Homo sapiens: one gene and its partners. The protein of the gene in region 3 purifies or fractionates together with the protein of the main gene of each other region. This does not show direct contact. Each region holds a gene or a part of one and is shown on either strand. Other genes may lie near its edges. The genes, in order: CNTNAP3, CHSY3, MAN1A1, SLC2A12, PLOD2, ITGA7 and GAS6.

Region 1 (4,328 bases), on a different chromosome or scaffold from region 3:
AGGGTACCCATTATTTAGCAATAAAAGCTTTAACTCAACAAAATGTTAGTATTTCATTCTTATTTTGTGATTCTATTTCATTATAAAATACTAAACTTCTATGATTTTAGGTAATTTTTTTTTTTTTGAGAGAGGGAGAGAGGATTTTGCTGTGTCACTCATGCTGGAGTGCAGTGGCATTATCTTGGCTCACTGCAACCTCAGCCTCCTGGGTTCAAGCAATTCTCCTGCCTCAGTCTCCTGAGTAGCTGGGACTATAGGCAGGCACCACCGTGCCCAGCTAATTTTTGTATTTTTGGTAGAGGTGGGGTTTTCCCATGTTGACCAGGCTGGTCTTCAACTCCTGGCCTCAAGTGATCTGCCTGCCTCGGGTTCCCAAAGTGCTGGGATTACAGGTGTGAACTGCCACACCCAGCCAGTAATCATTTTTAAGAGAAAATAAAACAATGAAGCATGAAGCACGTAATAATCCATTAAAATGTCATGCCTTCCCTAGAGTACAGAACAGCAGAGCCAGAGCTTTAAACCAAACTCATCACATTGTTTACTGAATTCCAAAAATATTTGACCAGACATATTGTTTTTTATGTACCCAAAGCTTAATTTATGACTGTCAAAATTTACATTCAGTGTTTATAGAATTAGATGAGACTTTGAGCCGTTTGTAAATAAAATTACTGAAACCTCAAAAACAAATACTATTTGGTATTCTAGCTATAGGTACATAGCTATGGGTAGTCCAGCTATGGGTACATATCTCTACTATTTAGGACTTAACAAGGTTGAATTGTGAACTCTGAGGATAAATATGTTAAAATCCGTTCTGTTTTCCTCCAGGATACAGATTTATTCTGCCCCCACCCCAACTCACAGTCCCGTTTTTCTGCATCGCCGTCATTATCTCCTTCCATCCTGAGCGTGCCTTCATGTTTTCCTGTGTCTGCACAAGACTCAATTTTCTGTGAATTTGCTTGAGCAATATTCATATCTAATATTTCTAGCTCCCACAGAAGTGACCTTTTCCTTCGATGTGGGGAATGGACCTTGTGAGGTCACGGTGCAGTCACCCACTCCCTTTAATGACAATCAGTGGCACCACGTGAGGGCAGAGAGAAATGTTAAAGGAGCGTCTCTTCAAGTTGATCAGCTTCCTCAGAAGATGCAGCCTGCCCCTGCTGATGGGCACGTTCGTTTACAGCTCAACAGCCAGCTCTTCATTGGTGAGTGCTGGTGGTTTATAACTGAATTTAGTGTGAGTCCAGAGAGGGACCAAAAGAAAATAAGAACTGTGATGTACTGAGAGCAACAGTTGCCAACAACAACTACTGCTTATTGGTACTATTTGCTGATAACCTGGTAGGTTCCAGGAGCTTGCTGTGTGCTTCTTATTTGACATTTCTTTTTTTGTTTGTTTGTTTTTGTTTTTGTTTTTGTTTTCAGACAGAGTCTCACTGTGTCGCCCAGGCTGGAGTGCAGTGGTGCAATCTCAGCCCACTGAAACCTCCACCTGCCGGGTTCAAGCGATTCTCCTGCCTCAGCCTCCTGAGTAGCTGGGATTACAGGCGCAGGTGCCACCACGCCTGGCTAATTTTTGTATTTTTCATAGAGACACGGTTTTACCATGTTGGCCAGGATGGTCGTGATCTCTTGACCTGATGATCCACCCACCTCAGCCTCTCAAAGTGCTGGGATTACAGGCGCGAGCCACCGGGCCCTGCAGTATCTCAGTGTTTAGGTATCAATGTTTAGGTATTGTCATCTGTTTACAGATGAGATAGCCAAGCCTCAGAGAAGTGGAGTAACCAGCTAATGAGAGGGATCCCAGGATAGCCGACCCCCAAACTTGAACCATTCACATTGCAGAGGATTGGCATATGTGACAGCTATATTTTATCAACACTATTAGTGAGATCATTAGACATTTTTATCCATTCCTTCAGTTTCACTTCTCGGTGGAGTTAGAGAGCTTGTAATTGGGACAGAAGTCCTCCAGGGTCCACTCAAAACCAGATCGCAGGATACCCGCTGATTGGAAGCAGCACTGCGCACCTCCCCCGCGGCCAGGCTTCCAGGAGCCCACTCCCGGTTTTCCTCGCTGCTGTTCTCACTTCTGGGGCTCTCTCATCACAGGCTCCTTGTTTATAACCTGGTCTGGCTCATCTGTTCTTGCACTCCATTTATTTAAAGGTGATAGCTCTGGAAGTCTTTCCTTTAGTTTGCTTACTTACTGTTTTATCACTGTTGTTTATTTTTCCATATTGCTTTTGAAACTATTCTAACTTAGGAGCTACACAGATTAAAGCTCTCACTTGTTCATTTCTTAAGTGTTTTAAAGTGAATAAGGATGCAATCTAATTAAAACTGGACTAAATCACAAATTATCATCCAACCTAATTTACAGGGAAGGGTAGATACAACTTCCAGGTACTAAATGCTACACGTGAACCCACGTATGTATGTGGATGTGGATGGGGTGTTATACCATGACTTCCTAAAACCTAGCTTCAGGCGTGGTTAGCTCTTCTATTAAGGTGCAGTGAGGCTTTTTCAAAGGACATGAAACCATCAAACTACTGGAAAGGAGGACTACACGGAGGGGTCAAACCAAGAACTTGATTTTCTCACTTGTAATCTTGGAGATTATTTAAGGGAATGCCTAGAAACACAATTAGCGTAAAATTCACCTAGAATCAGCATTCATTGCGGTGGATGAATCACTGGCTTCAGAATCACCCACAAAGCTGATTGATAGTTCAGATTTGGGGCCCCCACCTTAGGCCCACCGAATTGGAATCTCTGGGAGGAGGCTAAAAACTGCATTTTCCAGAAACTCTAGGTAATTTCCATGCTCCTAACATTGAGAATTGTCGCCTTCATAATGGTGTTTGTCACTACACAGGTGTTGTAAACCTCTCTAAATGGTTTCTTCAGCATTCAAGTTTGACATGACAAAATGTGCATGCATGCAGTATTCAATTACTGTTTAGCACTGTACCCTCTGAGAGGAGGAGATCCTGGGGTACGGTGTCACCCCTTCCAACTTCCCCTCCTTTGCCTCTCCATTTCCTTTCACACTTTATTTTTAGAGTCCATCCAAGTAAGAAATTATCCATATATATTTTTATTATTGTGAAAAATTTGGAAGTTCATACCTAACCATTATAATGCACATTCTTATTCATAAAGAAATTAAAATAATGTTTGATGAATACACATTCTTATTCCTAAACAAAGTAGAATAGTGTTTGATGTGGTTTATATTATGTATTTTGTTCTTTGTGAAGGAACTAAAGTGAAATTCTTTCTTACCTGAAGTTAAGGAAATGTTTTAGGACTATTTGCCAGACTCACCATGTTTGAAAGTTATGTAAATAAGTGTTTTATTCAATGTCATTTAAAGCTTCATGTCTCATAACAGTTACATTTTCAAAATTGTGTATGTTCACAAAATTTTTTGACACATTGTGATTATTGCCACTCTCCATAAGGCCTGAGTTTGACATGGACATAAAATCCTGAATAAAATACCAAGGAACACATTTCTATTTGCAGTGTTTCCGTTGTAGGTGGAACGGCCACCAGACAGAGAGGCTTTCTAGGATGCATTCGGTCTCTGCAGTTGAACGGGGTGGCCCTGGATCTGGAAGAAAGAGCCACAGTGACGCCAGGAGTGGAGCCAGGGTGTGCAGGACACTGCAGCACCTATGGACACTTGTGTCGCAATGGAGGGAGATGCAGAGAGAAACGCAGGGGGGTCACCTGTGACTGTGCCTTCTCAGCCTATGATGGGCCGTTCTGCTCCAATGGTAAGTGTGACCAAGGAGCAGGTTATAGGGAAAGTACATGAAACTTAAATAACATGAAGAATGCTTCTGGCATTTGATATTATAAAGAGAGGATAAGATTGAATTATTTGAAATGGAATAATTTCTGTACCAAATTCCTCTATTGAATTTAGAAGGGATATGACTGTTTTTGAAAACTTAAGGCTATCAGTCCTCTCTGGGTTTCTTATTTAGAAGATCTCTGGGTTACCCCTAGCATCTGTTCAATGCTAATCCTCTTGAAATAATTTGGTTTTCAAAACTCTGTCCTTGTACTGTTCTAATTTTAACATCAGTAAACCATCATTGTTATTTTTGTTTTTAATTTTTAGAGACAACGTATTGCTATTCAAGCCTCTCTGTTGCCCAGGCTGGACTTGAACTCCTAGGCTTGAGCAATCGTCTTACCCATTGTCCCTTGTGACAATGACTTGAAGTGATTCAAAAGGCCTTTATAGAAATGTCTTTTCTTATAAAACAAGCATACTAACTAGAAGGGGAAAA
Region 2 (4,163 bases), on a different chromosome or scaffold from region 3:
ATAGTTTCCGTTTCACCTTATCTTACCAAGAACTTACTCGGTAAAAATAGTATATCAGGATGCTAAATGAAATTTACGACTCCCCTGGCAAATAACTTCTTATTGCCATTCCAAACAACAGGTCATTGGTTTTCCTCCTTAGGGTGAATCCTTATTTTGGAAGACTCATGCTGTGTCCATTCTGTCTCTCTCCTTCTCCGTGATCTGTTATGGGGTTATGGACACAGTCAATTGTTGTTTTATGTATAGCTAGAGGTTCATTTGCAATATTTGAGCCTATGAACCTGACATTTGTGCTCTCACTCATATATAGAAATCAAAAAGTTGATTTCATAGGACTAGAGTGTGGAATGTTGGTTACCAGGGGCTAAGCCAGCTGGAGAGAGGGGTTGGGGAGATTTTTGTCAAATGATACCACATTTCAGTTAGATAGGAGGAATAAATTCAAGTGATCTATTGAATACATGATGACTATAGTTAATAACTATATTATATACTTTAAAATGCTAAAAAAAGATGATAAATGTTCTCACCACAATAATAACTATGTGAGGTAATGAATACATCAATTAGCTAGATTTACTCATCCCACTATATGTATATTCTCTATATATTATATATATATACTTCAAAACATGTGGTACATGATAAGTACATGGAATTTCATCTACCAATTACAAATAATAAAACTATTTTAATTTTAAATAATATAAATATTACAAACCATTTTTGTTATGAAATACCATACCAAAAATGTATTAACATTTTCATTTAGATGCTTTAGTTTATCGCTGGTTTTCTTTTTAGATAAATCTTTTAAAATTAACCCTGATTTTTTTAATTTTACTTTTCAGATGCAACAACTGTTCCATGAAAATTATGAACACAATCGGAAGGGTTACATCCAAGACCTTCACAATAGCAAAATCCATGCAGCCATAACACTTCATCCCAACAAAAGGCCTGCATACCAATACAGGCTGCATAATTACATGCTCAGCCGCAAAATTTCTGAACTTCGCTACCGCACCATCCAGCTCCACAGGGAAAGTGCCCTGATGAGCAAGCTCAGTAACACAGAAGTGAGCAAAGAGGACCAGCAGCTGGGAGTGATACCTTCTTTCAACCACTTCCAGCCTCGGGAGAGAAATGAAGTGATAGAATGGGAGTTCCTGACAGGGAAGCTTCTATACTCAGCAGCTGAGAACCAGCCCCCTCGACAGAGCCTCAGTAGCATTTTAAGAACAGCACTGGATGATACCGTCCTACAGGTGATGGAGATGATCAATGAGAATGCCAAGAGCAGAGGACGGCTCATTGACTTCAAGGAAATTCAGTATGGCTACCGCAGAGTTAACCCCATGCACGGGGTGGAGTACATTTTGGATTTACTCCTTTTATACAAAAGACACAAGGGAAGGAAACTGACTGTGCCAGTGAGACGTCATGCCTATCTTCAGCAGTTGTTCAGCAAGCCTTTCTTCAGAGAGACCGAAGAGCTAGATGTCAACAGTCTTGTGGAGAGTATTAACAGTGAAACTCAGTCATTCTCCTTTATATCTAATTCTTTAAAGATATTATCTTCTTTTCAAGGTGCCAAAGAAATGGGAGGGCACAATGAAAAGAAAGTACACATTCTCGTTCCTCTCATCGGAAGGTATGACATTTTCTTGAGATTCATGGAGAACTTTGAAAACATGTGTCTTATCCCAAAGCAGAATGTAAAGTTGGTCATTATCCTTTTCAGTAGGGATTCTGGCCAAGACTCCAGCAAGCATATTGAGCTGATAAAAGGGTACCAGAACAAGTACCCCAAAGCAGAAATGACCCTGATCCCAATGAAGGGAGAGTTTTCCAGAGGTCTTGGTCTTGAAATGGCTTCTGCCCAGTTTGACAATGACACTTTGCTGCTATTTTGTGATGTTGACTTGATCTTCAGAGAAGATTTTCTCCAACGATGTAGAGACAATACAATTCAGGGACAACAGGTGTACTATCCCATCATCTTTAGCCAGTATGACCCAAAGGTAACAAACGGGGGAAATCCTCCCACTGATGATTACTTCATATTCTCAAAAAAGACTGGATTTTGGAGAGACTATGGATATGGCATCACCTGTATTTACAAAAGTGATCTTCTAGGTGCAGGTGGATTTGATACCTCAATACAAGGCTGGGGACTAGAAGATGTAGATCTCTACAATAAAGTCATTCTATCTGGCTTAAGGCCATTCAGAAGCCAAGAAGTAGGAGTGGTGCATATTTTCCATCCAGTTCATTGTGATCCTAACTTGGACCCTAAGCAGTATAAGATGTGCTTAGGATCCAAGGCAAGTACTTTCGCCTCAACCATGCAACTGGCTGAACTCTGGCTTGAAAAACATTTAGGTGTCAGGTACAATCGAACTCTCTCCTGACAGTCCAGGCAACACATTTTGCCTTTTTTAAGGGGAGTTTACCTCATTGTTGGTTGTTGTTATTTTTATTGTATTATTGTTATTTTATTATTATTATTGTTATAATTTTATTTTGTTGTCCTGGTCTTAAACTACTCTTGGTTGTCTTCCTAAGGGTGTTTGTTGACCTCAAGCAAGAAGAGTCTGCAGTTCACTGATGTTTCAGATTTCTACTGAAGTCAATATGTTATTACTTTTATATAACTTTATTTGAGATTGAGTTAAATCATAGCAATCAAATGACTTTTGAAACGCATTCATCACAAGAGACAGCTTAGAAGAATGTTCTCTTGGGGCTTAAAGATGCAATATCGACTTTTATTTGGTTTCTCAAATTCAATGTGATACAAATATTTACTGGTGAAAGGTACCACAAAAGTGCTTTATGCTTCCTATGGGGAAGGGACTCTGTAACATAAACTTGAGTTTTGTAATTTATACAAGGACTTAAATATATAAACAATAATTTTCTTCATCTTTAGAATTTTTAAAGTAAATGAATACCTATGATTGTATGTTTATTTTTTAAAAAAAGTTTTAAAAATTGAGGAGTTTTGTTCCACAAGCAACCGGTACTGGCTACCCTGGTCTTATGACAATTATGAGCTCCTCACAACTGTCTGCTATAAATGCGAATGAACTTTATTTTCTCAAGGAAATATGATTTAATTAAATATTCATGTACATTTTAGAAGCTTTATGAAACAATGTCCTTCATTTGCTGGCAAGAAGATAAAATATGACAGAACCTGTTTATTTAAAATAAAACACAGGTATAGCAGTATTCTTTTTCAAAAACACTGACAAGGTTTTGTTGTTTCCTTTTATTCACACTTGATATGTTTCTGTTCATATTCACCAAAACATGCTTGCTGAGCAGCTTGAAAAGTTAACAAGGGATTATGGTATGCTGTTTGTTTTATTATACTGGAAAACCTAGCCTTCATAAGTGATTAAACTGAGCAATTTCTTTACTCAATAATTTACCATCTGGGAGAAACATCCTTCCTCAATCTCTTCAGCTTTGGGATCAAGCTGACCCAAGAACAGTTCAAAAATTGCCTTTAATATGGGTTGGTAGGTATCTCAAAAGTCACTGGAGAAATTATTAATATGACATCAATTTTATAATTATTAAAAATACGTCAGGAAATATCTCATTTAGTTTTACATATCATTCTTTCTTTGACCTGGATCAGTGGTGTCCAGTTTCTAGAAAAGCATAATTGGATTAAAGAAGTGTAAGAGAAAATGAACATCCATCCAATGGAGTGTCATTAAGGCATATTATAAAATCTTATTTTGTAAATAGGTAATACATTTGCATGGTTCCAAAATCAAACAAAATTTTTAAATGCCTAAAGCTGTTGGCCTCACTCCCCATCCACCCATATCTGTCACCTGACTACACATGACCATTGTTTGGGCTGTGTGAGTGTTTTGTGCATGTCTTTCTAGAGTTTCTGAAGCACACATTTTACTTTTTTAACCCTCTATACACAAAATGCAGCATATTATACATATTGTTGTGCACTTTGATGTTCTGTTTCTACTTAATGGAAAAATAATTTGCATCAAAATTGATTTGAAAGTGATTGTTGTAAATTGTTGCCATTATTTTTAACTGAATGCCATGAGGCCACATATCATTTGCCTTGGTGATGTATTCCTTACATGTTGACAGCCTCTTTTACTGAAGACATTTTG
Region 3 (4,328 bases):
GCCGTTAAAGTTTTTGCATGGTTTAAACCTCAGTTAAGAGTCACATATCTGAAAAAGTAGTATTCTTTGATAAATATGAATTCTCTCCTTAGGACCACAATTTAAATTATGCAGGGGGAAATCCTGAATTTGTATTCTGACAATTGCCTAAGTTAAAATTGCCTGAGAAGACAGACAGTCCCAATGGCTACCTCCATGTGAAGTAAACTTGTCCCCAGAGATAAATGGACAGTACTCTAAGGAAATCCACACATAAAAATCTGAACAAACTCATATTTCAGGGAAGATCATTAATAGTATCAAAGATTCTTTACAGTGGAGAAGTAAGAGGCAACAGTTGAGTGTTGAATTGCCTACCATGTGCTAAGCTGTGTGTTAGGTAGCTCCTTTAAATGAAGCGGTGGAGTTGGGTTTTTTTCTCTCTCACAGTACTTGAGATTATTACCCAGTTTTACAGATAAAGTTGCTGTACCTCAGAGAGATTACATGTCGAACCAAAATTAAGATTAAAGTTTGTCTATATCAGCACCTGTTCCTTTTAACTCATCCACTGTGGATTTATTTGTAAGAATTTCCATTCTACACTTAAATCTTCATTTACTAATTTGCAAGCAGTAAGTTAGTAAGGTAAGTTAGAAACTACTTAAAGTCTCTAGGAGGAGGCTAGTATAAAAGTAAACTAAGAAACACCTCCAGTTAAGCCTCAATCAAAACCGAAAATAAAGTTAGAAAGTAAATAAAGTTAGAAAGAAAATTACTTTATCTAAAATATTTGTACTCTTCAGGAACAAAATTTTTTAGTGGAATCAGGTGCTTTTGCGATTAAGTATTTTATGTGGTAATACATATATTCTTTTAATATTATTATCAAGGCTTCTCAAGTAGTGTTGTAAAATAGTGGCTCAGTCCTCAGAAAAATTTTATTTTTCTTGACAGCTTAGAAATTTTTTAATAAAGTGTTAATTCATAGGAAAAAAATGGAAATTTGTAATCCCAAAGATGTAGCCATTATAAAATTGGTCTTTCTAACAAGAGGTCTGGGTTATTTTGACATAGGCGTACTTTTTTATTTAAATATAAATGCAGCTTGCTTTGTTCTGGTTAACTACACTGAGTATGACATTGGTTTCCTTTACAAGTCTTCACTACTTCACATGTAGGAACCAGAAGCGCCTTAGTGAGAACGTTGGCCTACATTTGGCACAGCCTTTATAAAGGCACATGATTAACATCAAAAGCAAACTAGGATATGATCCACATGGCCTCTTTTAGGTTTATTTTTCCTCATTGCTGTGAGGTTTCAGATTTTAACCTGGGGAGTTCTCCATATTTTATAGTTTCCATTCTGTCATCCTCTAATTACCATACTGGCAGACATTTTAATTATTCTAATCTTAAATTGGCCGTCTAAGATCTTGATGTTCAAAAAAAGACAGCTTTAAAATATTATTTGAAATATTTTCTTCCTAATTCCTAAAACCATACCCACACAACTTTTAGTATATTGTATTCAGACAAATCATTGACAGGAAAATCCATTAAGAACAAATGAAGTCAAAGTGTTTCCTGCTTCTCTTAGTAGTAAAAGCTAATTTTCAATCCACTGTATATTTTCAACTTAGAAAGCAAAGCTAGAACAACTAAATTTCTGTTTTGAGAAGTAGCATTGTCTTATACAGCAAAGTTTATTTCTGCTAAGTTGTACTTTAGAAGATTATTGTAACCAAGGGGAGGATGCTGTACACTATTGTTCTGGACAATTGATTACTGAAGATATGGCTACTCTGTTGTAGCTTCAAGTAGATTTTGGGAAGCATTTAATCCCAGAGTGATATGTTTTATTTGATTATTTTAATAACAAAATATTTTGAGCTTTCAACTGGCTATCATGGCCCTATCTGGAGACTACACTAGGAACTCACAATGGCAAATGATACCTGGGCAGAAGACATATCAGACACTTACGATTCTGAAGGCTTCATCAAACCAGTTTTTTAAATCAATTATACAAGGATTAAATCACAAAATATATAGTACTCTTTTTTCTAATCAATTATCTGTATCCTTGACACAGTTTTTTCAGATCTACTAAAGACTATCCTTCTTTGTATTTATTTATATTTCCCATGGCCACACAAAATTATTGCTTTGAAGGTCTTGGAATTTCATTGTAGTTTTTATTAGGAGGTAGCAACTTGGTCCGAATCATGCCAGAAATACTTTATTTAGGATCCATAACAGGGTAATAATGTTTCTCTAATTCATCCTCAAAAGCTACTACTCTTGCCATGTAGAAAGAATAATTTCTTAGGTGATGAACAAGTATCTGCTTGAAGGACTTTATTGCAATTTGTGTTATGAGAAGTATAAATAGCTAAGATGTTCAGTCGCATAAAATAAGAATGAAATATTAATGTAATAACTAAACCATCAATAACATTAGCTTAACCACGGTTAATGAGCACAGTAATATGTTCATTTATTTCTTACCATCTTGGTTTCATTCGTTTATTTCTAATAAAGGTAGGAAAGGTTTTAGCTTCCTGTGTGTTCATTTTCATTCATTCTTCTCTATCACAAGTTTTTTTCTGTGTCTATTATTCCCAAATGTGCTTCCTAACAAATCCCTCTCTCTTGATAGCAGTGTACAGGTATAGACACAGTCATGTCCTTTTTCCTTCCATGAAGTAATTGTGGGGCAGTGGGGAGAACATTTTCTGTTAGAGTAATTGGAGATTAGCAATGCCAAACACACTTTATTTTTGCTTTTTAAAATATAAGGCATATTTTACTTACCTGTCTAGTTTAAGAGAATATCAACAGACCTGGGATAGAAATAAAAGATGTTTTATAAATCATTTTTGTAAACATTATCATTTCTCCCAAATTTAAAGATTTTTCTGATTTTTAAAATATATACATTTATTCATTATATAATAGTGTGCTTTTTAATAGAAGTATTAGAGAGGAACTTGATTCAAGCGTCACCACTTTGGAGATGTAAATGATAATTATAAATGACTCTTATCAAGTGCCACTTGCATTAGTGACTGCTTTATAAACAAAATGTGGCAGAGTCGTATCAGGAGATCCTGTTGTTCCCATTTATGGATTAGGATGCTGAGATTTAGAGATATAGTAAGCAAATTGTTCACTCCCACAAATTAGAGATAGTGTCAGAGCTGGAATTTGAAGCCAAGTCTTCTGGCCCCAGAACACCTCCTCTTTGCCACTCTATTTTGTTATCCCTCCAAGCCTACAGAAGTGAAAGGAAGAGTTCTGCCACCATCCTGGATCTCATGCACAAATATGCTGTGTTCTTCATCCACCTTAGGGCCTGGGCTGTGTTATTTCACCACTTATGGAAATGAAAATGTACCAAACCAACTATTACTGCTGCACAGTGGCCTGTCTTTGGGAAGGAGAAAGTTTTTTGAATATGAGGAATACAATGTTTGGTCACAGAACCAAGCAAAACCAAATGTGCTGGCGCAGCAGTGTTAATTCTGACTAATCAAACAAATAAGGCATAAACTAGAGGAGGAATACAGAAAGCAATAGCATGTAATTTCAGGTTGAATGGATTTTTAACACCAAACTCTGATTGTCAGGTGTATTCTATTCTTTTTTTTTTAATGTTGGGCATATTTTTAGTATAAATTTGAGAAGAGATTACAAAATGTTAAAAAATAAGTGTTTTTCACAGGCTATCGAGACTCATTTGATCCGCAAGTCTAGCAGCGGACTAACTTATATCGCAGAGTGGAAAGGGGGCCTCCTGGAGCACAAGATGGGCCACCTGACCTGCTTCGCGGGGGGCATGTTCGCACTCGGGGCTGATGCAGCTCCCGAAGGCATGGCCCAACACTACCTTGAACTCGGGGCTGAAATTGCCCGTACTTGTCATGAATCATATAATCGAACATGTGAGTACATGTTATTCTTCATTTATGGTCTATTCCCACATGCTTTGATTTAATGCAGTTTTGTCATTGCTGCCCTCAAAAGACTATCCGCTCTGCCTATGAAGCTTGATGATCGTGATTAATGTCTCAAAGGAATGTATATTTTATTTTAAAAGGCAATGCTTTTCTTCCTAAAAATATCTACCTTTAGTTTACCAAGAAACAAAAATCCAGGCCATAAAGAGTTAAAGCCAGCCTAATTTACTGACTTCTGCTTTTGCCAATAACATTGGGCAAGGGTCTCTATCTCCCTGCAAAGAGAAACTTAGCATTTTATTAACCATTATTAATCTTCTCCACATCCCCCATGAAACAGATCATGAATCCCACTCCCTTCTTATAAAATAGGAATTTGAAACACAA
Region 4 (4,328 bases), about 15 Mb from region 3:
TAACTCTTCTAAGCCTCAGTTTCCTCTTTGATAAAAGAGGTTTCGTAATAGTTCCCACCTTGTAGGGGTTTGTGAGGATCAAATGAGATGAGGTTGTAAAAATGTTTGTAAAAGCCCACAGTAAGAACTTCTGGCTGTTTTTTATTAGGCAAACTGGGCTTGATAGGCTGTGAGCAGAAGACAAGTTAATTTGCTCCTTTATTGCCCCATCTGATCCCATCAGGCAAGCCCCATAATGTTCCCTGTCACTCTCAGATAATAAAAAGTCCTCTGATGAGTTTTGGTGCCAATAAGACTCTCCTTCTAGAAATTCAAATGTTTAGTCTGGTACAATAATCAAATCTTGGAGCTCTATTTAATTTAGAACTTCTCTCCATCCAGCTTGCTTCAGGCCAGGACGCCCAAGTCAGAGAAGGGAGAGTAGCCGGCTTCCTCATGCCCACCTGGCTCCATTTCCTACCCACTCATTAGCTGTGATTTCTGACTCCTCCAAGGTCAGGGGGAGAGAGCTGAGGAAACAGCCCAGTCCTACAGCAGGTACACCTGGGCTCTGGCACTGAGGCTTCTGTGCTTGGCAGATGTCCAGAGCTGGCTCTCTTGTTGCTGCCAGGCAGGTGGCCCCACCTCTGCCCCTGCGGTTTGCATTTCTTGGGCCTGTGACAGATACCAGCACCTCATGCCCCTCACCCTATGCATGGGGACCATGGCCCAGCTCTCCTAATGTTTCTGTGAATCCTTTCTTCCTTGGCTGGAGGTGAGGAGGCAGCACGTCCCTTTACTGTCCTGTTCTGCTGAGGTAGGAAATGGTGCTTCCCAACCACAAATCCCGGCAGGATGAGGGCAGGGAGAGATCAGGGTGCTGGCACTCAGATTCAATGGGTTTTTGCTAAATGTGCTGTCCGCCACCCACTCTTGCCTTTCTTCTAGTGCCCTGGCTGGTGCTCAGCGAGATCTTTCCTGGTGGGATCAGAGGACGAGCCATGGCTTTAACTTCTAGCATGAACTGGGGCATCAATCTCCTCATCTCGCTGACATTTTTGACTGTAACTGGTAAGAAGTCTTTGTTTTCCTCTAATGTCTTTGGTCCTCGTAGGACAAATGTTAGGGAATCACACCCACCTAAAGACCATTTTTTCGTGGAAATTTTCAAACACACTTAGAAGGAGAACGGCCATGACCCTGAAGTACCCATGACCCAATTTACAGTTTTGAATGTAAATCTATTTATAACCCCACCTGCTCTTCCCCTACCCAATTATTTTGAGTCACATCCCATATGCAATGTTGTTTTTTCTGAAAAATTTCAGCATAGACCTTTGACATTCAAAAACATATAACTACAATGTCATTATCACACTTAAAAATATAATCATCCCATAGTATCAAACACCTAGTCTGTGTTCATGTTTTAATTGTCTTATAATTGCTTTTTATACATGATTTGAATCATGACCCAAATACATAACTTACAAGTCACTGAAATATGTCATAATTTGTAGGTTTTGTCTCCATCTCCTCCATCTCCTCACCCCCACTATACCTTATATTTTTAAAGAAATTAAAAATCTATTAAAAAACAAATGATTTATTTCATAGAATTTTCCAGTCTGAATTTTGTTGATTATAGTCATGTCACGTGCCCCTCTCTGTTTCTCTGTTTTTTTTTTTGTTTTTTTTTTTTTTTTCCGATAGTCTCTCTCTGTTGCCCAGGCTGGAGTGCAGTGGCATGAGGCATGATCTCGGCTCACTGTAACCTCCGGCCCCTGGGTTGAAATGATTCTCTTGCCTCAGCCTCTGGAGCAGCTGGGATTACAGGCACACAGCATCACACCCAGCTAATTTTTGTATTTTTAGTAGAGACAGGGATTTCACCATGTTGGCCAGACTGGTCTTAAACTCCTGACCGCAAGTGATCCACCCACCTCAGCTTCCCAAAGTGCTGGGATTACAGGCACGAGCCACCACGCCTAGCCCTCCTCTCTGTCTTTTATGTTTCTTGTAAATTGCTATTAGATTTAGATAGAGGCTTGAGGAGAAAGAGAAACCAATCCACAATAACAAAAGTCATGTTTAGGTGTCAGGCAGAATTGCTTGTAATAATAACAAACTTTTATTTTCAAAAGGGATCTCATCAAATTTAAGGATAGAGAGCAGCAGAAGGGAGATTCTTTTTTTTTTTTTTTTTTTTTTTTTTTTTTTTTTAAGACAGAGTCTCACTCTCTTGCCCAGGCTGGAGTGCAGTGGTGTGATCTCGGCTCACCACAACCTCCATCTCCCAGGTTCAAGTGATTCTCTTGCCTCAGCCTCCCAAGTAGCTGGGACTACAGGTGCGCACCACCAAGCCTGGCTAATTTTTTTGTATTTTTAGTAGAGATGGGGTTTCACTTTGTTGACTCAGGCTGGTCTCGAACTCCTGACCTCGTGATCCACCTGCCTCAGCCTCCCGAAGTGCTGGGATTACAGGCGTAAGCCACTGTGCCTGGCAGGGAGATTCTGTAATAAGGTCAGGCTCATTGTTACTTTCCACTGAAGCCTGAAATTCAACTGCATTGTATAGAAAATTTGAGGATCCCTATGTCGGAAATAAGGCAAGGCATAAAAAAATGTTACAAGCAAAACAAAAAATGGCTGTTTGTGTGTTCCATTCAGCAGCCCTATCTAAAGGAACCACAAATTAGATTTATATATTATAATAAAATAACCCAATATTAGGGATCAAATCAGAAACAGAAGCATTCGCCTTGTTTTCCTAGCTCCAACTTGTAAACATGAAGAAAGTAAGAAGGGAAACCCTTTGGGGATTACAAAGAATGATAGAGCTAAAATAAATAAATAAAGCCTAAATTTATTTTTTTAAAAACGATAGAGGCTTGAGGAGATTTACATGTCATTTTTTGGTGAACTCTGTGGCAGCTGCTGCCGTGTGAACTGCCAACAGGAGGCACATGAGGTCTGGTTGTCTCGCTGTTTGTCATTGTTGGCCTCCTTTGATGATCATTTCCCAGACCTACTCATTATGTCATTCCTTCTCCATTTTTATCTGAAATACCTCTCTAAAGAGAAATTTCTTCTCATTAGCTATTTGGCTATCCTGAAGTGTGGATCATATAAGAAAGGTAAAATACGTGCTTGAAACTTTCTCTTTATTTTCTAGTTTTCAAAATAATGTGGCAGTTCCCCAGTATCCACGAAAACTGACCAATGAGTCGGTTTCTCTTTATTTCATATATAGATGAGGAACATGCAGCATGACTACAATCAAGAAAATCCAGACTGTGGGAAGTTCTATGAAACAAATAACCTAATTTCTTCATTTCATATATATTGTCTTTATAGATACAATTTTCAAAAATGGATGTTTGCTGAAAAGCATGCATATATATAAACACATATATACACATATACACACACATACATACATATATATTTAGTATATCCACTTTTGGAAATTAACCTTTGGGGTTACTATTTAAGCGTGGTTTGGGTTTTTATATAAAATTTTCAAATGTTCCTATCCTACCTTTTGAGAAGTAGCTCAAGATTAAAGGAAACAAAGAAACTGGTCCTACTCAGATCACACACATAAACACATGCCCTCAACCTTCACATGTGCACACACGTACTCAACACACACACACCCTCCATCTGCTATTTGATGTGGAGAAAGAGAAATATAAAAGAAAAAATGGAATTGATGAGGGATGGAAAAGATGACACACATCTCTGGGAGGGCTATAGCTAATACACTGGAGGAGCTAGTGAAGCTTTAGAAGTTCCGTATGGGCTTTTAGAACAAATGTAGGAAAACAGATCCACTTAAAAACAAAAAGCCTAGAATGCTCTAAAACCTTTAGATGACATTTAATTGGAATGCTTGACATTTCCTACTTATTTTCAAAAATAAATTTTCCAAGTGTAGGACACAGGGATCTAAAAGACGTGAGGTTCTACTTGGCAGTAAGCCCTTAAACACCAACATTTTTTATGCAATTTCAGCTGTATCAATAAAAGCAGACTGTTCCAGATAGACAAATGTACTCTGCAGTGATCATGACACAATTGTAGCATTGCATTCAGCTCTGAGTAAAACATCTCGAGAGGGCCATTTAAAAATTGCAGTGTGTTCGCTGAAGGAGGGCAACCTGAATGGCGAGGGCAGTAACCTATGCTGTGGGAAGAATGGTTGAAGAGCTCAGGATGTTTGACTTGGACAAGGGGATTCTCAGAGGAGGGCTGAGGTGCATTCAAATATTTGAATGGCTGTCACGGAGAAGGGGTGGGGAGAGCTGATTCACTGTGTGTCCTTCCACAGGACAAAGCACAGCCTC
Region 5 (3,450 bases), on a different chromosome or scaffold from region 3:
TTTCTAAGAAATTAATAAAGTCACAGTTTGCTCAATGATTTGAAAGGTGATCTAAAATGAAATGTGAATACTAATGCCCTAAAATAAAATCTTAGGGGATTTTTTTTTTTACTTTAACTTGAAGAAAAATCAGTATTGATGCACAGGAAAAATGCTATAGGTAAAAGTTCTTAAATCTTATGGATGATTATTCAATTTCTTGCCACATTTTAGAATCAGAAAGCTAATTAATATTAGAGGGAATAATGAGATAATATAGAAATCTGATCCATATATACTATATAAACATGAAATTTATTAAAATTTTGAAGATACCTTTGTTTCCTCCACATAAAAAATGTTTGAGTTACATATAAACAGATATGCAAAACCAGTGACATAAATTATGGTATAAATATTCAGCCCCTAAAATCTAGCCTCAAAAGATGTATTTAAGGCAAATATCTTTTAAAACATCTTTTGATTGGAATTATTTTGAGTCTGTGTCTCACTTCCTCCCTGCTGGCTCTCTGTATTTGCACTTTGTAAAGAGAAAATTAATAATTTCTAGAAATATTCTAAATTTCAGAAGATATCTTTTTGGATATTTATATTACTCCATGTATTAATAATATTTTAGTAAATATCCATATTTGAATAAAGAACTTGTCCCAATAAAATAATTCTTTAGCTTTTGTTGAAAAAAGTTGAGATATCTTTGTGTGTGGATTTTATGCCAGAGATTGGTCAAAAAGAATCAAATTCATGGATTAGAATAAAGAGAAACCATTTTTTAATATAGAGCCCTAACCCTTAATTTTAGTAACTGAAAGAAGTGCAAGTGCTAGTAAACTCATGATTATTCCTTGATAAATATTAATAACTGAAGTGAAGGCAGAAATTTTAAAAACTCATTTAAAAAATCAAATTTAGAGTAATTTACTATAGACATATAAGACAGACCCTAGTTAATTAGTTCACTAATTCATTTTTACAAATACTTGTTGGTAGAATTTTGCTCCTTGTCTTTTACCTTTAAGCACACCTTTATTTACCTACTCTGTGTATATATTAAAATACTGATGGTCCCCAACTTACGGTGGCTTTACTTAGGAATTTTCAGCTTTATGTTGGATTTATCGGGGTACTGTGTGTTTTTAACCTCCCACGGGTTTATTGGGACATAACCCCATCGTGAGTCAAGGAGCATCTGTAAAATGTGTAAATCTATTCACTGTAAGATTACTTAAGTTTTAAAATCCTGAGGTACAATATTTCATAAATAAAAATTTTGTATTTCATAGAATGACATAAGCATATTCAGAACCAGGCAAAGATTAGGCTATATACTGTGATTTCTGAAAATTACTATTTTGTCCACTATACATAATCATTTATAAGTTGAATAATTTCTAAAATGCATATGCTTTATACTTTTCAGTGAAGTATTTATAAAGATATTTGTTTTAATATGTACTTCTTTTTATAGGACTGGAAGGAAAAGTATATAAACCGTGATTATTCAAAGATTTTCACTGAAAATATAGTTGAACAGGTTTGTATTAATGATTACAAAGTATAGAAAATTTTGCTGTTATTTTCCAGAAGAAATATTATTAATACTACTTTCACAGAAGATGTGAAAGTGGAGAAACTACCTTTTAGGTAAAATTTATTTGATTCAATTACTGATTAAATAGCATTAAGGAACATACAGTTGTAAAATGTAGAACATAGAAATTAACATTTTAAAAGCATGCCTTTTTAAAAAGCATGCTCCTATGTGTCATAGCTTTCTGAAACCACTAAAAATAGAAACTGTTGACAGATCTCTGATGTAGAACTCTTGCAGTGAAAGCTTATCTTTGGAAGAAACTGGGCTGTCTTTCTGGAAGAGTCTTTTCTCAGAGACATCTTTGAAACATGAATTCTCTTTTAGCTTAGTGTTCAAAACTATTGTTAATACCTAATTTTTGAGAATGTAAGATGTCATCAATTCTGAGGTGCACCATTATTTATGTACCATGAGAAAAAAAATACTGTCAATAAACCATGACAGAAAACTATGTTTCCTAGTCATACAGGATTTTTTATTTTACACATATTAAAATAACTATTTTAGACTATTAAGACACAGAAGTTATTATGTCTTCTAACGATGATGCATATTTTATAGCCCTGTCCAGATGTCTTTTGGTTCCCCATATTTTCTGAAAAAGCCTGTGATGAATTGGTAGAAGAAATGGAACATTACGGCAAATGGTCTGGGGGAAAACATCATGTAAGTTGTAATTTCACACTAAGAACTAAAATGTATGTGGGGGTTAAGTAGATACTCAGAGAATTCGGAGGGGTTATATACTTTTTCTCATATGTCTCTGAGTTCTAGACTTAGATAAATTGGCTAGCCAAGGCTCTGATTTCAGTCTACTTCTCCCACCAACCAATTTTTTTAACACTTAAGTAATTTCATTAGTTTGGGCGGGTTTCTCATTTATGCATGTAATTACACTGGATGTTCCCTAAGGGTCGATGTCCTCAGGCCAGAGTTTGTTAGGTAACACATGTCTTTACAGAGTGATGTCACTCTTTTCCAAGGCCACTTTTTATTCCTTGCGTTTTCACAGTGAGCTGTGGTGAAAATTCTAAGGCAAATGTTATCTGGCTCTGAAAACTGTTTTTGTGTGTAAAGATAGGAAGGAGGGATCTGAGTGCCTTAGGTGTAATTCAGTTTTGCATTTGCATTCAGTGTCAAAGACTTGGCAGGAAATACTACTGCCAGTGGTTAGATGTGTTTCTTTCCCTCTGAGAACAGACATGCCATTTTAGCAGAATACTCTGGAATATTACTGCCTCTGCACGGTTATGTCCCCCAGGTAATGAGCTGATAAGGGAGAGGGAAGCTTAAAGTATAAGGAAGAACTTAAGTTAGTGGGTGATGAAATAATGAAAAGCAATCATTCAAAAACTTTTGAGTGTTACAAATAGAAGTGAGGAAGGGCGGGGAAAGCTTGTTTTTAGTGTTTGGTAATACAGACAGCAGATATGCTAAGTGTATGCTCATCAAGCAGCTGAGACTGCCTAAAGGGTCACTGTAAAAAAAGACTCATTTTTAAGAAAGGATGTGAGGGCTTAGGAAGTCAATTTTATTTACTTTATAGCTAAACTTCACATATACATTTAAGAAGTAGGAAAGGAGTCTACTGACCTTACATTACTTTGTTTCGTCATTGTATCATTGACAAAGCTGTTACCTAAGTTATTTTGATAATTTTACAGTTAAAGCAGATGATATACCACATTGGAACAACTGTTATTTTTATTGTCTATTATGATCTGTGGTTGAAAAAAAATACTATAATATAAATGGGAATTGCACGTGGAGTACAGCTTATTATGTCATTAATGTTGTTTCTAGGATAGCCGTATATCTGGTGGTTATGAAAATGTCCCAACTGATGATATCCACAT
Region 6 (4,180 bases), on a different chromosome or scaffold from region 3:
TCCATAGCTGGCCAGACCTGATAGTGGGTGCCCCCTACTTCTTTGAGCGCCAAGAAGAGCTGGGGGGTGCTGTGTATGTGTACTTGAACCAGGGGGGTCACTGGGCTGGGATCTCCCCTCTCCGGCTCTGCGGCTCCCCTGACTCCATGTTCGGGATCAGCCTGGCTGTCCTGGGGGACCTCAACCAAGATGGCTTTCCAGGTGTGACGGGGAACTGGAAAGGCTCAGGGAGGGAGGGGCCACAGGAGGGATGGGGAAGCCCCTCAGAGGTCAGGGTGTGGTCTTCTGAGGACTCAGGGAGAGAGGGTCCCTGAGCTTATGTCTGAGCTGTACCATTTACCAGCTTTCTGACCTTGGCAAGTTCCTAACCTTTTTGCGTTAGTAATATCTGCAGGGAGTGGCCAAGAGGATTAAAGATGATGTATGTAGAGTGCCTGGGATTTTGTAGCCTCTCAATAAAATAGAAAACATACCTGAGTGACTGGGGGGAGTTGAGGCCTGGATCTTGTCTGCAAGGCCCCCAGCCAGCGTGACTGCCTTTTCCCTGTGCCCTGCAGATATTGCAGTGGGTGCCCCCTTTGATGGTGATGGGAAAGTCTTCATCTACCATGGGAGCAGCCTGGGGGTTGTCGCCAAACCTTCACAGGTGAGGGGAGTCGCTGGGATGAGGGAATGGGTGTGGGTGGAATCAGCAGAGGCATCAGGGGAGGCAGAGGCCTGCGGGAGGTGGGATTGAGGGAGGCTGACAGCTGGTTCTCTAGGTGCTGGAGGGCGAGGCTGTGGGCATCAAGAGCTTCGGCTACTCCCTGTCAGGCAGCTTGGATATGGATGGGAACCAATACCCTGACCTGCTGGTGGGCTCCCTGGCTGACACCGCAGTGCTCTTCAGGTGAGCCCCTCTCAACCTTTTCCCTCCCTGAGGCCGTCAGCCCCTCCCTGTGACTCTGACCCCGACCTCAGTGCCAAATCTAATGCTGAAGAGTGTTTCCCAGCCTCATGTTCTCATGTTTCTTGTGCTCTTGACTCCCCAATCCCAGGGCCAGACCCATCCTCCATGTCTCCCATGAGGTCTCTATTGCTCCACGAAGCATCGACCTGGAGCAGCCCAACTGTGCTGGCGGCCACTCGGTCTGGTGAGGTGGGATCGGGTGGCACCTGGACCCTGGCAGCTTCCCCTGCCCTCCCTTTGATCCTTTATCTCCCCAGTTTGGGGCTGGGGCTGTGACAGGATGTGACAGATGGGGTGGGGGTAGGGGCCTTGGCCCATCAGCCTCGTTTGGCTCAGGAGCCACCTTTGCCCCCGCAGTGTGGACCTAAGGGTCTGTTTCAGCTACATTGCAGTCCCCAGCAGCTATAGCCCTACTGTGGGTGAGTGCGGTCCCCCCTCTGTGGCTCGCCCTTTTGGGTTTCCCAGGGAGGGGGGTCACTTCGAGGTGGTAGAAGAGCACCCTTGGAATGGGGTGAGCTGGAGCAGCTCTGCAGCTCAGCAGCTCCTCCTTTCCCAACATGCCACAGCCCTGGACTATGTGTTAGATGCGGACACAGACCGGAGGCTCCGGGGCCAGGTTCCCCGTGTGACGTTCCTGAGCCGTAACCTGGAAGAACCCAAGCACCAGGCCTCGGGCACCGTGTGGCTGAAGCACCAGCATGACCGAGTCTGTGGAGACGCCATGTTCCAGCTCCAGGTGGACACTGACCCCTTGGCTTCTGAGGGTCATTTTCATGGCTCCATCTCTTTTCCCTGATTCCTCTTAGCTGCTTTTTCCCGAGCACACTCGTGCCTCCTTCTAAGACCTAGACACGTGGGAAACCTGTCTTCTGAGCTCACTTCCTCCTCATCTGCTGCCCTCTCCTGTCATTTCTGCACTCCCTGGAGGAGGAGGAGGTGCAAGGGGCTTCATGTCCCCTCTTCCAGCTGAATGGAGGAGGTGGCAGCTTTTATCATCACATCTGGTCCTCAAAGCCCTAAAGGTTTCCCCTGTCCCCTACCCCAGTCTTTCTCCCTCCTCCTTGCTCAGTTCTCCACCTCTCTCATTCATCTCCCTAATATTCTTTCCAAGTTTTAGAATTGGTCCTAGGTCTGGCTGGGGCACTGAGCAGGGCTGAGGCCTGGGGATTGTTCCAGTGAGGAATAGACCTTCCTCTTCCTAGGAAAATGTCAAAGACAAGCTTCGGGCCATTGTAGTGACCTTGTCCTACAGTCTCCAGACCCCTCGGCTCCGGCGACAGGCTCCTGGCCAGGGGCTGCCTCCAGTGGCCCCCATCCTCAATGCCCACCAGCCCAGCACCCAGCGGGCAGAGGTGAGCATGGGTTCTGGTTTAGCCCAGGGGGAGGAGCTGGGAGGGCAAAGATCATGGTCCCTCCCCAGTGACACCAATTCACAGCTCACAGAGCCCTTTCACGTATGCTACTCCAGTAATTCCTCATATCTCTAGGTGCCTAAATGACCATGTTCCTAGTCAAGGGGACAGAGCTCCTCTACTCCATGTAGTCATTCAGGGGGCTCAGGTTGATGGGATTCTGTAATCTTCAAATGCGGCCTTCAAGCTCTTGAAGTCACATTCATCCCATTCAGCTGGAAGGGAGAACATGAGGCCCCTTGCTTGCATGGTTTTTATGGCTGGCCCAGAAGTGGTGCCCTTGACATCTTTTCCCGTTCTAAATCCGGAACTCAGTTACATGCATGTGAGCTGGGGCAGTGTGGCCCAGCTCTTGACTTGCTGCTAGTCTCTACCATGGCATGGTAGTGCTCCCATCACTACCATGATGAGAGGACCCAGAGGAGAGGACCCAGTTCAGGATCACATGGCTAATAAGCAGCAGATCTGAGAGTTGAGGACAGGTTGTTTAATCCTGTGATACTCTAACCCACCATATGCCATGGTGACAGGTTTGCCCCCTGCCTTGCCCCCTAGGAATGCCCCTTATCTCATGTCTCTCCCCAGATCCACTTCCTGAAGCAAGGCTGTGGTGAAGACAAGATCTGCCAGAGCAATCTGCAGCTGGTCCGCGCCCGCTTCTGTACCCGGGTCAGCGACACGGAATTCCAACCTCTGCCCATGTGAGGGGGGCAGAGAGCAGGGTGGGGGTGGGAGGGCAAGAGTTCAAGGATTGAGAGAAAGCCCTCTCAGGAGGACCAGTCAGAGGGAAGGGCTGAGCCTGCAGAAAAGGCAGAAGGTGGAAGAGGACCTGCCGATGGACTTGGAGACTGAGATGAGGGTCAGTGATGGGGCCACGGGGGCTCCCATGGCAAGGAATAGCAATCCTTCACAGTACACTAATAATATGCAGTCTACATACATCTCATTGGTTAGTCTTCAAACCTCTGTGAGGTAGGAATTATATTAGTCTCATTTTATAGATGGAGAACTGAAGCCTAGAGAGGTTAAGTTACTTGGCCAAGGTAAGTAATGGTGGAGCTGAGATGAGAACGGAGGTCCCCTGACTCCCAGTCGTGTGTACAGAGGCCTGAGGCTTGGACGGGTGTGATGGGGACCTGGGGTGGGAAGAGAGGCTCAGGGAGTGAAGGCAGGTACTGGGGGAGCAGACTGGGCGGGGGAATGGTAGGGGGAGGTGTTCAGAACTTAGCAGGAGTGGGGTCTGACTCTCCAGGGATGTGGATGGAACAACAGCCCTGTTTGCACTGAGTGGGCAGCCAGTCATTGGCCTGGAGCTGATGGTCACCAACCTGCCATCGGACCCAGCCCAGCCCCAGGCTGATGGGGATGATGCCCATGAAGCCCAGCTCCTGGTCATGCTTCCTGACTCACTGCACTACTCAGGGGTCCGGGCCCTGGACCCTGCGGTGAGGACCTGGGGGCAGGATGGGGTGGGGTCTTGAGGGGCTCCAGTAACCCAGACTGACCTTGCCTTCTCTCCCATTCCAGGAGAAGCCACTCTGCCTGTCCAATGAGAATGCCTCCCATGTTGAGTGTGAGCTGGGGAACCCCATGAAGAGAGGTGCCCAGGTTGGCACATCTGCCCTTATCCCTACGTGAGTAGCCTCTCCATAAGCCCGTAGACCACCCCTGACTCTAATCTCTTTCCACCCTTGGCCTAGGTCACCTTCTACCTCATCCTTAGCACCTCCGGGATCAGCATTGAGACCACGGAACTGGAGGTAGAGCTGCTGTTGGCCACGTAAGCCAGGCGGGGCCGGAAGGGTGAGGTGGGGGTAGT
Region 7 (3,842 bases), on a different chromosome or scaffold from region 3:
CACGAGCGAGAGAATAAAAGCTGTTTCTGTCACCTCTTGATTGTTCTGTGGGGAAAACAGCATGAGTCCCCCAGCCCAGGACAGCTGACTTATTGTGAGGACCGGGGGTGGGGGGACCTTGTCCAAGGGGCAGCTGCACTCAGCTCCACCCGGTGTCCCCCACGGAAAGACGCTGTTGGGGGACCGGCCAAGGTCACAGATCCGACTTTTCCAGGGAAATTGGAAAACTGAGTTTGTTGCTGAAATCATCTGACTTAAACACCAGAGACTAATTCAGATTGCTGTGAGCCACCATCTGCCCAACCGAACAGGGGAAAAGCTCCCACACTGTGAGCCGAGTGTGGCTCGCAGGCGCCGGCCCCCTCAGCTGTGTGGCGGTGACCTGGTGTCCAAACAACCCCCGCAGCCCGAAGCGTGGCCCACGCCGGGCTTGGCTCATCAGACCTCTGGTCAGAGGCTTTGGGGGTCCCTGGGGATCCCACCGCGGGCCCCCTTCGTCCCCTGCCAGGGAGTGCAGCCCACGTACCCGTGGGTCGAGCCGGTCAGGACGCCCTGGGTGGCGGAGGCCCTACCTGCTTCTTGAGTTTCTTCGTGGAGTGATAGTCTACCAGTGCCACAGAGAGAGGCACGGCACGGAGGTCGGGGGCCCAGAGCGCAAACAGCACGCCTGTGTCTGCGGCTGGGCGGATGTGAGCCACGACTTCTACTTCCCAGGTTGATTCAGTCCCGACGTCCAGAGGGGTCCGCACTGCAATGAAAGCGGTGCATTATAGGGTGGTATGCACGGTGGAGAGGCCACAGTGAGGTCGGAGCAGGGCCTCGAGAGATGCAGTCCCAGCCGGGGTGGGAAGCTGTGCAGACAGCCCCGGATCTGGGACGTGATGGAAAACTCAACAGACTGGTTCAGATCTTGGCCCGGAGCCCAGAGGCACCGGGGACCCCCAGGCTGTTTCTCCCTGGCCACACCAGTACCCCACTTCCAAATGCCCTGTAGGTGACCACCAGGCCACACAGGCCCGTCTGAGGGGCCACAGGCTGTGCACCATGGGACGCAGGCCTGTCCCTGCCTCCCTCCGATGTCCTCTTGTTTCAGGAGCGCCTGACAGCTCCTTCCTCAGAGCGTGCGTGGCCTCGTGCCTCGCATCTCACCTGCAGCTTTCAGGTAGCAGCACAGGGCCCAGTGGGGGCTGAGAGTTTAAGATAGCATGCGGACAGGAGCTGTCATGAGCACGGTGGTCTGGGGTCTGAGCTGTCAGGAGCACGCGCGGTCTGGGGTCTGAGCTGTCAGGAGCACCCGCGGTCTGAGTTCTGAGCTGTCAGGAGCACCGTGGTCTGGGGTCTGAGCTGTCGGGAGCACGCGTGGTCTGGGGTCTGAGCTGTCAGGAGCACCCGCGGTCTGGGGTCTGAGCTGTCGGGAGCACGCGCGGTCTGGGGTCTGAGCTGTCAGGAGCACCCGCGGTCTGGGGTCTGAGCTGTCGGGAGCACGCGCGGTCTGGGGTCTGAGCTGTCAGGAGCACCCGCGGTCTGGGGTCTGAGCTGTCGGGAGCACCTGCGGTCTGGGGTCTGAGCTGTCAGGAGCACGCGCGGTCTGGGGTCTGAGCTGTCAGGAGCACATGCGGTCTGGGGTCTGAGCTGTCGGGAACATGTGTGGTCTCCCAGGGAGAATGCCACGGCATATCCTCTCCACGCTGAGCCCTCCGTGGACTAAGAAGCCAGAAGAAAAAACTTCCGCCCTGTTTTCAGTGTTTCTATCTCACCCAGAATTCCAAAGTCCTGATAAAGAAGCTGTTTTAGGAAAAAGGACCCCAAATCACTGTGTGTACACATTTGTGACTGGGCGCCTCGCACTGCAGGCCAAGGTTGGGGTCAGAGTGAATTGTGCTGGTTTCCCTGTCTCTTTCCCACGGGGCTGTGTACGCCTGAAACCCACATCGCCTGTCCTGCCTGTCCCTAGCTGGTACCCGCCACATCAGTTCTCAACAACCATTTATGGCACCGAAACACACAAAATCAGAAAAAGTAACAAAAATATTGCAACAGAATCAAAAAGTAACAACAAAAAGTCTCCTGTTTGCCGGTCTTCCCATAACCTGTGAAGGGAGAGATGATGGTGTTCTTTAAAATGGAAGCTCCCAGTCGGGCGTGGTGGCTCACGCCTGTAATCCTAGCAATTTGGGAGGCTGAGGTGGGTGGATCACCTAAGGTCGGGAGTTCGAGACCAACCTGACCAACATGGAGAAACCCCATCTCTACTAAAAATGCAAAATTAGCTGGGTGTGGTGGTGCATGCCTGTAATCCCATCTACTCGGGAGGCTGAGGCAGGAGAATCGCTTGAACCTGGGAGGCGGAGGTTGTGGTATGAACCTGGGAGGTGGAGCCAAGATCGTGCCATTGTACTCCAGTGTGGGCAACAAAGGCGAAACTCCGTCTCAAAAAAAAAAAAAAAAAAAAAAAAGGAAGCTCCTGACAGGAGGCTAGGCACATGTTGGCCATCGGGGCTTCACAAGGGCACCGGCCTCTGCTCTCCCCGGGAAGGTTTCCCGGCTCCACGTGGCCCCTTGCATGGAGGCTGCACAGACCCGGAGATCTGCAAGCCTGAGCCCAGCAGAGTCGCTGCAGAGTGAGCCAGGCCAGTACTACCATTCCCAGCAAGTCTCCTCTGTCTTGTAAGAGACGTTACTGGTATAGTTTGAGATTCACTGGAAATGCATGGAGCTGTAACTGCTTCTGTCCGGATAGACCAAAAAGGGCCGGCAGACGCGGCCGGCAGTCACTGGAAATGGCCCCTGTGATGCCTGCATAAGGTTACCCCTGAGAAATGTGTATGATATTAAGTGGAAAAAGGATTTAAGCATTTCATATGACATGATTTCGTGTCAAACATTATGATGCTCTAGATTTGGAAGTCCAAAAATCAAGACTGAGGGAGAACGCGTGTGCACAGTCAGTCCAGCCAGTGGCAGATGGCGCTTTTCTCAGATGCCTTTCCTGACACGGTCACGCTTTTGACACCCGGGGGGAGACGGTGACACTGGATCTGGCTCAGGACGGGGCAGGACCCTCCCCTTTGCTCCGCGTGGATCCCCTTGAACCTGGGGTTCCTGCTGGGTGCTTGAGGGCCGGCAGCCCTGAGATCTGACGGAGGGGGCGCTGCCTGCCCTCTGTGCGTGTGGGGGCTTCACCATAAACGGCTCGGTGTCCAGGAATAGGGCAGGGCTGTGGTGCCCCAGTGGGGCCCACGTGGGGTGGGAATGTGAGGCAGGGTGGGGCCGAGCAGTAACACTATCCTCACAGCAGCACCCCCGGAGCCTGCACTGGGGAGGGCGGCAGCGTGGCGTCACAGGACTGGGCCAGCAGCTCACATCCACCCTGTCCTCCCTTTTTCAGGCCTAGGTTCACTGTCCCCCAGGCAGCTTCACGGCTGTTTTTACACACCTCCCATTGTAGCTGTCTCACCGGGTCATCGGTGACCACGGTGTCCACCATGTTACCGAGAGCTTCTCTGTGCCCCTGGACGAGTCCTAAGGCTGTGCTGTCTCCGGACTTTCTGCAAAGGACCCTGTAAGGCTCCCAGCCTCCCCGGCCTCGCAGGCACCTTCTCTCCCCGGCCTCCCGGCGCTGGCCTCGCAGGCACCTTCTCTCCCCAGCCTCCCGGCGCCGGCCTCGCAGGCACCTTCTCTCCCCGGCCTCCCGGCGCCGGCCTCGCAGGCACCTTCTCTCCCCGGCCTCCCGGCGCCGGCCTCGCAGGCACCTTCTCTCCCCGGCCTCCCGGCGCTGGCCTCGCAGGCACCTTCTCTCCCCGGCCTCCCGGCGCCGGCCTCGCAGGCACCTTCTCTCCCCG

What was found.
Region 1: the proteins of MAN1A1 (region 3) and CNTNAP3 purify together in Homo sapiens (affinity purification with mass spectrometry; one large-scale study listed by BioGRID and IntAct). This does not show direct contact.
Region 2: the proteins of MAN1A1 (region 3) and CHSY3 purify together in Homo sapiens (affinity purification with mass spectrometry; one large-scale study listed by BioGRID and IntAct). This does not show direct contact.
Region 4: the proteins of MAN1A1 (region 3) and SLC2A12 purify together in Homo sapiens (co-immunoprecipitation; one large-scale study listed by IntAct). This does not show direct contact.
Region 5: the proteins of MAN1A1 (region 3) and PLOD2 purify together in Homo sapiens (affinity purification with mass spectrometry; one large-scale study listed by BioGRID and IntAct). This does not show direct contact.
Region 6: the proteins of MAN1A1 (region 3) and ITGA7 purify together in Homo sapiens (affinity purification with mass spectrometry; one large-scale study listed by BioGRID and IntAct). This does not show direct contact.
Region 7: the proteins of MAN1A1 (region 3) and GAS6 purify together in Homo sapiens (affinity purification with mass spectrometry; one large-scale study listed by BioGRID and IntAct). This does not show direct contact.

Annotation. Positions count from the first base shown.
Region 1 is NC_000009.12:39,099,389-39,103,716, reverse strand, and holds part of CNTNAP3 (contactin-associated protein-like 3 isoform 1 precursor), read left to right. Parts: intron 1-1,001; coding exon 1,002-1,220; intron 1,221-3,566; coding exon 3,567-3,806; intron 3,807-4,328.
Region 2 is NC_000005.10:130,183,375-130,187,537, forward strand, and holds the end of CHSY3 (chondroitin sulfate synthase 3), read left to right. Parts: intron 1-854; coding exon 855-2,417; 3' UTR 2,418-3,260; downstream 3,261-4,163. UniProt on the Homo sapiens protein: Has both beta-1,3-glucuronic acid and beta-1,4-N-acetylgalactosamine transferase activity. Transfers glucuronic acid (GlcUA) from UDP-GlcUA and N-acetylgalactosamine (GalNAc) from UDP-GalNAc to the non-reducing end of the elongating chondroitin polymer.
Region 3 is NC_000006.12:119,189,262-119,193,589, reverse strand, and holds part of MAN1A1 (mannosyl-oligosaccharide 1,2-alpha-mannosidase IA), read left to right. Parts: intron 1-3,706; coding exon 3,707-3,926; intron 3,927-4,328. UniProt on the Homo sapiens protein: Involved in the maturation of Asn-linked oligosaccharides. Progressively trim alpha-1,2-linked mannose residues from Man(9)GlcNAc(2) to produce Man(5)GlcNAc(2).
Region 4 is NC_000006.12:134,003,534-134,007,861, reverse strand, and holds part of SLC2A12 (solute carrier family 2, facilitated glucose transporter member 12), read left to right. Parts: intron 1-927; coding exon 928-1,050; intron 1,051-4,328. UniProt on the Homo sapiens protein: Insulin-independent facilitative glucose transporter.
Region 5 is NC_000003.12:146,071,371-146,074,820, reverse strand, and holds part of PLOD2 (procollagen-lysine,2-oxoglutarate 5-dioxygenase 2 isoform 1 precursor), read left to right. Parts: intron 1-1,468; coding exon 1,469-1,534; intron 1,535-2,155; coding exon 2,156-2,260; intron 2,261-3,397; coding exon 3,398-3,450. UniProt on the Homo sapiens protein: Forms hydroxylysine residues in -Xaa-Lys-Gly- sequences in collagens. These hydroxylysines serve as sites of attachment for carbohydrate units and are essential for the stability of the intermolecular collagen cross-links.
Region 6 is NC_000012.12:55,694,404-55,698,583, reverse strand, and holds part of ITGA7 (integrin alpha-7 isoform 2 precursor), read left to right. Parts: intron 1-7; coding exon 8-201; intron 202-557; coding exon 558-646; intron 647-761; coding exon 762-889; intron 890-1,037; coding exon 1,038-1,133; intron 1,134-1,306; coding exon 1,307-1,368; intron 1,369-1,515; coding exon 1,516-1,685; intron 1,686-2,151; coding exon 2,152-2,301; intron 2,302-2,946; coding exon 2,947-3,062; intron 3,063-3,613; coding exon 3,614-3,806; intron 3,807-3,888; coding exon 3,889-3,969; intron 3,970-4,061; coding exon 4,062-4,141; intron 4,142-4,180. UniProt on the Homo sapiens protein: Integrin alpha-7/beta-1 is the primary laminin receptor on skeletal myoblasts and adult myofibers.
Region 7 is NC_000013.11:113,822,803-113,826,644, forward strand, and holds part of GAS6 (growth arrest-specific protein 6 precursor), read right to left. Parts: intron 749-3,842; coding exon 573-748; intron 1-572. UniProt on the Homo sapiens protein: Ligand for tyrosine-protein kinase receptors AXL, TYRO3 and MER whose signaling is implicated in cell growth and survival, cell adhesion and cell migration.